Regions from separate parts of the Homo sapiens genome. Here region 1 is linked to region 2. The links come from fine-mapping of genetic effects on gene expression. A gene starts in region 2. The other region holds a variant in brackets. All regions are shown on one strand. Distances are between the middles of the regions. Region 1 has its middle 39 kb from the start of ENPP2. Region 2 holds the start of ENPP2 (ectonucleotide pyrophosphatase/phosphodiesterase 2).

What was found. PIP is the estimated chance that this variant, and not a neighbour inherited with it, causes the effect.
Region 1: its variant is the best candidate, but not a certain one, in a credible set for the expression of ENPP2 in whole blood (TOPMed, PIP 0.79).

The regions. Positions count from the first base shown.
Region 1 is chr8:119,675,384-119,680,597 of GRCh38, reverse strand. No RefSeq gene overlaps it. Among named protein-coding and RNA genes, the nearest start is that of ENPP2, 39 kb to the right of the region's middle. The variant G/A (reference allele first, on the strand shown) is at 3,140.
Region 2 is chr8:119,636,715-119,641,928 of GRCh38, reverse strand. It overlaps ENPP2 (ectonucleotide pyrophosphatase/phosphodiesterase 2), which reads left to right and starts at 3,090. Exons shown (of 25, transcript NM_001040092.3): 1 at 3,090-3,181; 2 at 3,402-3,504. The coding sequence starts at 3,149. RefSeq lists a silencer at 2,875-2,974.

The sequences.
Region 1 (5,214 bases), 39 kb before region 2:
TTTGCATTTTGAAGTTTCAGCCCACAATAGGATCTCAATGCATATCTGTCAAAGGGAGGAATGAGCATTTTTTGTGCTAGACCCAAGGCTAGACTGGGAGACACAAAGATAAAGGAAAAAGGTCCTTACTAATGCTCACAGTGCAGCAGCAGAGTTGGTCTTATACACAGGTGACAACCGGGCACTGTCCTAGGAGCTGTCCTAGCTGGGGAATCATAGAGAAGGGAACGTCATGAGGGATGGTGGAGCGGAATCTGAGCAAAGGTTTGCCAGATGTGCAGGCAAGCCCATTCAAAGCAGTGGAAGTGAGACAAAGGTCCACTAATTATGCTACACAACTTGAAATAGACATGTGAGGCTTACATGCAAGAACAGCTCCCCGGGAGCTTGCAGGATAATTGTCTGACCAGCTGACAGCAAAATCAAGATACCCTGTGGCTCCTTGCTGCACTGTCTGATGCAGACAGATGGTTGTATCTGACCAGTAGATTGCCTACGGAGGGTCAGCACCCCAAGGGCCGATTTCAGGTGTATTTTGGAGACACCTCCTGAGGGCTTGTATTCAGATCTATTTAGGAGACAGCACATACAGGTCTGGCACATAAAAATAGTACAAAGAAAATAAAGAAATTGTGGGAGAGGGGTGCAGGTGAATAGATGATCTGCCCTTGGTGAACTGAACCAAGTTCCATAAAGCCAACAGACTCTGCCTACTAGTGGTACTGGTGAATATATGGTAGGAAGAATTAGATGCTTTCCATCAACTTTAAAAAAAAATTTATTTAGACGGAGTCTCACTCTGTCACCCAAGCTGGAGTGCACTGGCACAATCTTGGCTCACTATAACTTCCACCTCCTGGGTTCAAGCAATTCTTGTGCCTCAGCCTCCCAAGTAGCTGGGACTACAGGTGCTCACCACCATGCCTGGCTTTTTTTTTTTTTTTTAATTTTGTATTTTTAATAGAGATGGGGTTTCTTCAAGTTGGCCAGGCTGGTCTCTAACTCCTGGCCTCAGGCAAGCCACCCACCTAGGCCTCCCAAAATGTTGGGATTACAGGCGTGAGCCACCCTACCCAGCCTTCATCAACTTTTTGTGCTAGGAATGAACGTAACCTATCTCTCCCTTCACTTTCTGTGAATTACTCTTCAACTTCATCTAAATCTTTCCACTGTCCTAGCTCATAGCAAGCAGAACACAGATGATCATCTGGCAGAAGAATCCTGCATGGTATGTGAAGTTTTCCTAGAATAATGGTTTGCAGTACTTTTTAAAGCATCAGAACCCCCTTTCGATATTAAATATTGCTTAGAAGAACAATATACAAACAGCTGTGATCAAGCAACAAGTGTAAACATGCATTGGTATTTACAATGTCCCAGGTGCTGTGCTATGCACTTGTATGTGTGTTTTTTCATTAAATCTTCACAATTCTATGATGTGGTATCTATAAAATAGGAATTACTTCTATCCTTTTTTAAGAGATGAGGAAGCAGGACATCAAAAGTTACAGGTAATGTGTGGCAAATCTAGATTTTGACTCTGGAAGTTTGCCCTCAATGTGGGGGTCCTGATGGTGCAGGAGGTCCTGTTCATATGGCCCAGCTGGGACAGGCTGGGGCGGTAGGAGGCACAGCTGAGCCCTGTTGAAATCCATCTCTCTTTCCTGCTCTTCTGGGGTAACAGGTGTAGCTAAGTGTCTCCATTCTCCTTCCTCCTTATACTCTCTCACCTTGGGGCTCAAGAATTTGGATGATTTACCAGGCTGCTGTGAAATTTGGTCTAAGAAACATTGCCTTGGTTCATCCTTCAAGATCTCTACCAGAGTCCATATTCCATCGTATACACTCAATAGGAGAGTGATGCTTATAGACAAATAGGTCTTCAAAAGTGGAAGTTAATACCAATCACAACAGACAAGGTGTTGTATGATTCTATTTATATGAAATGACCAGAATAGGCAAACCTATAGAAACAGAATTCTGTCTCTATGAATGGTTACTGAGGCCTGGGAGAATGAGGGGTACAAGGGGAATGACTGTTAATAAGTACGGGGTTCCTTTTGGATTTGGAGTGATGAAATATTCTAAAATTGATTGTGGTGATGGTTATATACTTTTGTGACTATCCTAAAAACCATGGAATGGTACCATTTAAATTGGTGAATTGTACATTATGTGACTAGGTCTCAATAATGCTGTTAAAAACAACAACAACAACAAAAATCACCCAGAAATGAAAGCAGAGCATCTCGTTTAAAGTTCATTAAGTGTGTTACTTCATTTCCTTCTACAACGTCTGTGGAATGCCATTGCTGACTAGGCAGCCTGCCACACATGGGGCACAGGAGAAAAGAGCTCTTGGTCAAGAATAATCATGACACAGCAGCAGGAAGCAGCCTTGACTGCACTAATAGCATGTCATGAGCAAGCAGAGAAGAGGCCCAGAGCCTGGCAGAGGAGCTTGTGTTGAACCCAAACCCAGATTTTACCAGTAGGGAAACTCCTTAGGGAGCCAGGCTGGGGCATGGATGTTTTAGTAGAGCTAGCACCACTTGAAAGGTTGGAAAAATGAGAGGGCAGGGCTTGTTTGGGGCTTTGCATGCCTAGATAACAGATTATGTGGGGAGAGACCAAGGAGAAGAGGACTAAAGATAAGCAGAAGCTGAATGACCCCATTCCCTGAACATTCATTCATCTCTTCACTCCTTTATTGAGCCTCACTTGTGTCATGCAGAGGCTAGGTCAGTTGTTCTCAAGCTTGGCTTTTGGAATTACCTAAATCTCACCTCAGTGATAGCTGGTCTGAGTGTGCTTTGGGCATGAAGATTGTTAAGAGCCTGGGAGATTCTAATTTTAGTTGATGTTGAAATTCAGTAGGCTGTATGATAGAGATAAAGAAAAAATTAAAAAAAAGATTAAGGCAGATATGGTGCTGGCACCTGGTGTGTACAATCAACAATGCTTTCTGAGTTGCCTACTAGGTACGAGATACTGTGCTGAGTAAAACATAAGAGTCTCAGTTCTCATGAAGGTTCAGACTAGTGGAAACAACAGAAAATAAGCAAGTGGGCAGACTGAGAAGCTTTTCATCACAACATCAGATAACTGATATGAAGGAAACAGGAAAGGTTAAAAGATA[G/A]CCAATAACGAAGAAAAAGATGGCTCATTAGATTGGCTGGTCAAGGAAGAACTCTTTCTTTTTTTAACATTTACTTACATATGTACATATAAATGCATACATATATATGTACAATCATCAACACAAATTACCATCTCCAAAAATTCCTCATGCCCCACTGTAATTTTTTTTTTAATTTTACTTCACGTTCTGGGATACCTGTGCTGAATGTGCAGATTTGTTACATTGGTATACATGTGCCATGGTGGTTTGCGGCACCTATCAACCTGTCATTTAGTTTTTAAGCCCCGCATGCATCAGGTATTTGTCCTACTGCTCTCCCTCCCCTTGTCCCCCAACCCCCAACAGGCCTCGGTGAGTGATGTTCCCCTCCCTGTGTCCGTGTGTTCTCATTGTTCACCTGTCACTTATGAGTGAGAACATGCAGTGTTTGGTTTTCTGTTCCTGTGTTAGTTTGCTGAGAATGATGGTTTCCAGCTTCATCCATGTCCCTGCAAAGGACATGAACTTATTATTTTTATGACTGCATAGTATTCCATGGTATATATGTGCTATATTTTCTTTATCCAGTTTATCATTGATGGACATTTGGATTGGTTCCAAGTCTTTGCTATTGTGAATAGTGCTGCAATAAACATGCGTGTGCATGTGTCTTTATAGTAGAATGATTTATAATCCTTTGGGTATATACCCAGTAATGGGATGGCTGGGTCAAATGGTATTTCTAGCTCTGGATCCTTGAGGAATCACCACACTGTCTTCCACAGTAGTTGAACTAATTTACACTCCCACCAACAGTGTAAAAGCGTTCTTATTTCTCCACATCCTCGCCAGCATCTGTTGTTTCCTGACTTTTTAATGATCACCATTCTAACTGGCATGAGATGGTATCTCACTGTGGTTTTGATTTTTGTTTCTCTAATAACCAGTGATGATGAGTTTTTTTCATATGTTTGCTGGCTGCATAAATGTCTTTTTTTTGAGAAGTGTCTGTTCATATCCTAGGAAGAACTCTTTGAGCAGGTGACATTAAGCCAGCACCTAAAGTATGAGTAGAAACTGGCCTTGGAAGATCTATGGAAGAATGTTCCTGGCAGTGGGCACATGCTGGGTGCACGTGCTGTTGTTGTTGTTACTGTTGCAAGGAACTGGCACATATTCAGACTCCATGAGGAAACATGGTGTGTGGGAGGGACTTTAATGTGTTTATAGGCTGTAATGTTTTATTTATCCGTGTATGTGAAGAATCAAAGACGCTTGATTATAGTTGCTTTATAAATGCCTATGGAATAAATGAACTGATGTTATCAGTAGAGAAGAAGTTGAAAGGAAAGGCGATGGTTGATGAGTTTTCCATAGGAAGTGGGAAGAGAGGGAATCTACAGTGCACAGAAAAAGAGGTACCTCTGAGGTAGGAAGGGAGAAGTGGAGAATAGATATATTTTTCTGGTGCAGGGACAGGAAATAGAATTTCCTTCTGATAGCTACTGTGTTCTTTATTGGGGGAAAAGAGTTTGTTTGCTGAAAGCAAGCCAGGTGGGAGTGGGATCAGGGTTCTAAAGAGGTGGGAAGTGTTACTTTGCATAATTAGAGAAGTGAGCTGGCTGGGGACATTTGTAAGAACTGAGGTGGTGCTGAGTGCCCAGCCAGGGGTAGGCCAGACATCAATGGTGGTGCCAATGGCCATGATTTTGGAATGATGTTTACCTCTAGCAGATAGCTACATCTTCGGTGGAGAATTTGCAGATGGGTATGGCAATGGTAGGACAAAGAAATGAACAAATTGAAGTGGAAGGAGAGACAGATCTAAATTGATATTAAAGACTAGTCGGAGACATAGAGGAAGTATTGTCAAGAAGGAGCTGAGGTCAGACGCAGTGGCTCACACCTGTAATCCCAGCTCTTTGGGAGGCCAGGGCAGGTGGATCACTTCAGGTCAGGAGTTCGAGACCAGCCTGGCAAATATAGTGAAACTCCACCTCTACTAAAAATAGAAAAATTACCCAGTTGTAGTAGTGGGCTCCTGTAAACTCAGCTACATGGGAGGCTGAGACAGGAGAATCGCTTGAATTCAG
Region 2 (5,214 bases):
TCATAGTTTTTTGTTTATCCCTATGTTGAATTTTCCTGCCAGACCACAATTATTGAAGCCAGTCAATCACGTCTGCTGCAGGAACCAGGTCTTATCTCCATAAACGTGGTTCTTATCTGACTTTCATCAAAGTAACCTATTGTGCCAGTTCTTGTCTGACCTCTAAACTCCTCTTTCTTCTCCCCACCTGCCAGACCTAATGAATCAGGATCTTGATACGCAGGACATAAACATCAGCATTTTAAACAAGGCTCCAGGGTGATTCTGATACCCAATAAAATTTGAAAACCACAGAATGATTTCTAGGGACTGAGACTGTTGACAAATATTTGTTTCTAGTTCTAGGTTTTCTTCTGCCAGGGGGCAGTGTTCTCTGAAATATGGCTGGGCTAATAAACCATGTTGGAATTTAATTTTTCAGTCTTTCTTATGCACTTCTTGTTTACTGAGCCAGCCACATGTGTCCTTATTACAAAATCTTAAACACCATAGCAAGTGAACTTCTCATAATTTAGTTTTCTTACAAAAGGTTTTGGACTAATTCCAGTCATTTTAGTTGAATTTCTTAACCTACTTTATGCACTGTGAAGCTTTTTTTTGTTTTTTTTTTTCAGCTTTAGGTAATGAGGGATAATTTTATTTTGTAGTTAATTTGATAGCCGAGGTAGGGACTTTGGTCATCTTGGTCATTCTCCTGACAGTTAATTTATAACAATAATCTTGTAGTAAAAATCTGTTTAACTGTGGCAAAATGATGTGTGTATGCACATATATGCTTGTGTGTGTGCGTGTATGTGTTCATGTTAACATGTTCCTTATGCACAACAAGCTGGTAAAAGACAAAGTTCTTTGGCAGAACGGTTAACAGAAATAGTGGCTGAGGGCCAGGCACGGTGGTTCACACCTGTAATCCCAGCACTTTGGGAGGCTGAGATGGGCGGATCACCTGAGGTCAGGAGTTCGAGACCATCCTGACCAACATGGTGAAACCCTGTCTGTATTAAAAATACAAAAATTAGCCAGGCGTGTTGGCATGCACCTGTAATCCCAGCTACTCGGGAGGCTGAGACAGGAATCACTTGAACCCGGGAGGTGGAGGCTGCAGTGAGCCGAGATCGAGCCATTGCACTCCAGCCTGGGCAACAAGAGTGAAACTCCATCTCAAAATAAACAAATAAACAAACAAAAACAAAAAAACAAAGAAATAGTGGCTGAGGTCAACTCTTTTGGATATTGGGTAACAAGCAGATCAACTTGGCTATTACAGCTTTTCCCCCTGCCCAGCTAGTCTGCATATAAGAGAAAAATAAATGGATGATGTTCAGCTCCTGAACCCTAACTTTTTTTCCAAGGGAACCCTCATTGTCTTCTAGCTAGGTTTATACAATCAAATATCAGACAAAGTCAAAAGTTGTTAGACTCTGGCAAGGCAAAAGAAGAGGCTGTTTTTGTTTTTAGAACATTTAGAGCACTGTGGCATATAATGAAATAACAGGATTGCCTTGATATTTTTCTTTGGGGTTTATTGTTTTCCTCTATCATGTCTGGCTTGTATCTTGAAATTTAACATAAATTATAGGAAAATCTTTCATGGAGTTAACATCTTTTATAAGCCTTGCTAAATACCCTACTCCAAATTTGTTCAGTATGGCATACAGACAAAAGCAAGAGGCTTACATATAAAAATGTATAAGCCTGTCCTCTTTGCAACAGTGCAAAACTAAAAGGATTTTAGAAAGGCAATTAACAGTTTGGCAGTATGTGTATTTTCTTTTTTTCAATTAGATATTACTAGATTCTAAGAATCTGTAATGAAACCCAGGCCTACTGTACAACCCCCTATAAACAAGTTTTTGCTTTTGTGCTATCATGTTTTATTTGAGCAGAGCCACTACTCTGTTACTAATTTGTTGCATGGTAAGTCTCGTATTTGTTTACGCACGAACACATGTGCTGCGGAAGAAAAGATGGTCACTGGACCTGCTGAGGAAGAGGCCAAAAACAAATCTTTTTCCCTCATTTGAATCCTGAAGGCATGTAATATTTAAACAACTTTCAGATTTAGAGCCCTTGATTTTTTCTTTTGAAAGTGTGCTGGTTGCCAAATTGCTTAGTAAAGAAACTTTAGTACCCACAATAGCCTCAAAGGACACAGTATTTGGTGGCTACATTTAACCAAGAAATAACTAGGGAAACAATTCTTGACATTTCAATTCTTGCTGCCATTGAGATTTCCTTCCTAAATTCAATTGCTAATAAAGCTTCCCATGCCATCCCCTTCCCCCACCCATCTGCCTCTCAAAAACCGCCCCCTCCTCCGCCCCGCCCGAAACAAGCTGACAGTCTTTACGGGAAGAAGAGGCAGAGACTGAAGTTATTTTGTCCGTCCTCCCAGGGCAGAAGGACTTTATGCTGCGTGGCTGGCATTTCCAGTATTTTGATAAAAGTTACTTCTCTAAACTTGAACCACAGCATGGGGAAAATAATGTTATCTTTTATGTTAGTTACAATTTTGCGAAATTTCATCATGAGAAACTTTCAAGGAGGCAGAAGTAGCTGAGAATGTGATACTAGGGACAGGGTCGCTCAAACTGCCAGCAAAATAAATAGATGGGAAAGACAGGAACGTTATTAGGTTTATAAATGATAAAACTTTCCTTGCTTAAAAAAATAAAGTGGTGAGGTTGACGCCATTGAATGACTGCATTGTAAACCTTAAAAGCTTAAAGCTGGTGGAAAGCCCTTGCACAGCCCTGTTTTCATTTTTATCGGATGAAATGCATTTGGTTTCTTTTTGACAAACCATGTTTTTGTGAGGAAAGGAAAATGAACATGCACTGTTATGGGCCACGGCAATGTAACAAACCCTCCTGTTGCCAGAGGATACCACATGAAAGTGTCTGTGGGTTAGGGGAGGGACCTGTAAGGGGGCGGGGATAAGGGGGATGATAGCTTAAGCCTCTTAGGCTCAGAGCTGCGATTTGTGAACACCCTGTGATGTAATCAAGCTCTGGACAAATCAGAGGAGTCTGTCAACCTCCCAGGTGGGATTGCTTATAGTTAATAGACTAAACCCAGAGCCTCAAAGCAGTGCACTCCGTGAAGGCAAAGAGAACACGCTGCAAAAGGCTTTCCAAGAATCCTCGACATGGCAAGGAGGAGCTCGTTCCAGTCGTGTCAGGTGGGAGAACGGAGGAATGACGGGGGACATGCTTGATCTTCAGAATCAGTGACTGATTGGCATTTTCCTTTTTGTTGTGCAAATTAAGATAGCACCTTATTATGCATTTTGGAAGTGGTAGGATTGGGTGTTGATATTGAAGCCATTTGAATCACCTTTGTGTAATTTGATTTAGTCTTCTCCAGCTGTATTTGACAACTTGGTCTCTTTATTCTCTTAGATAATATCCCTGTTCACTTTTGCCGTTGGAGTCAATATCTGCTTAGGATTCACTGCACATCGAATTAAGAGAGCAGAAGGATGGGAGGAAGGTCCTCCTACAGGTAAGTGTCAAAACTATTTGCATTTTCAATTTTTTAAAAATATTACATACGGGGTAATCAATGTAAGCTTATTAAAATATTTATTTTTAATACAATCTTGCAGTATAACTAAGTTAGTCCTAAATTTCTCTGGGTAAAACCACCTATGTGTATAATTCAGGTGGGAGAGTGTGGTTTTCATTAGAGAACATTTATGATTGTTTCATAACTGGCTATTTCCATTTTTGTACTCAAATTTGTAAATGTTAGGATACAATTAAAACTCTTGTTCACAGACAAGGCTAAAGTAGAAGTGGTGAGAACAGGTGTTGGTTTAATATTGGAGCTACCCAAATCTGATTTGCTGTCACATGATATAGGATGTAGTATTTGCCACTAGAAAGTTCTGATGTAGGAAAAAGGAATGGAAGTAAAAAAGGCAGTGAGCTATCTTTATGAAACTTCAGAAATTTAGGACTTTAAGATTTACTTAAAATTGGAAAAACATAAAAGAGAGGAGGTGTTTAAAGAGTTTTCAGGATTGATTTGTCCTCATTGTGTGTCCTTATGGCAAAGGAAAGGTAAGTTTTAATAGTGTACCTTGACTTAAATAATAGAACCAAAGTGAAAGAGTTTCTTTTTACAATACACTACACCATAAGTAGTGTTCCCATACAGTGTTCTTATAAAGGAGCTCCTTGTGCAGACAGAGGGGGCTTAACTGACCAGGTCTTAAGCAATGAGTTGGTTAATTTCCTGGAAATTGGAGCTGCTGATGGTTTTAGAAATAAAAAATTACATTTTAAGTAATGGGCACTCTAGGGAACAATATTTTCTGGACTTTTCCTGACATTCCAGCATGTTTGTCTGTCTTCCTGTGAATTTTGTGTTTCTCTGTATGTCTTGATCTGATTGTTATGAAAGACCATCACTTGCCTCTGTTTAGCCAGCTTGAAATTTTATTATCAACCGGGTTAGGACACATACATTGATGGAATACTAAATCTTCCTTACATCAATTAAGTTACTTTTGAATCATGCCAGTAGGTTGAAAGAATAATATTAGAAGTGAATTAGTGAATTGAAGTGGGGTGTGGCGGGGTTAAGAGTGAGAAAATAGATCACAAAACTTGCAGCCCCAGGGAGCCAAATGGACAAAATGAGTCGTCTTCTGTTGGGGAGGCAGAGGACAGTGGATCACTGAGCTAGAGAATGCTGTTTTTATTTGCAGCAAATGCTCTCTTCAAAGGCCTCTTTTTCACTCCCATTAACACTGACTGTGACTGAACAGACAGGGGAATCAGATCCTTAGCATGGTCATGTGGGAAAGCTAGCAACTTGAGAGCCAACTGCTGGTTCTTTTCAATGAACACTAAAGGGAACTTTTTTTTTCTGTTTCCTCTTAATATATTACTCTGGCTAAAACTGAGATTGAAAGAATTAAATGCTGTTTCCTTAATGAATGTAAAATTGAGTCACTCATTATTTTTAAAGGTGACTTCTTTTGGAAAACAGTCATTAAAATCCTAGGCTGGTACCCTGGAGTCCTGTAACTTGCTGTGTGGTGTTGGGCAAGTCACTTGTGAAGTCTGTTTCCTTAGCTGTACAATGAGGAGCAGACTTAGATGATTTCTACTTTTCTTTCTGGATTAAAAAAAAAAAATCCCAGGAATTATTCTGTTTCATTGCCTCTTGAATTTCTGTGCTCACTACTGGAAAACTTGAAAAGTA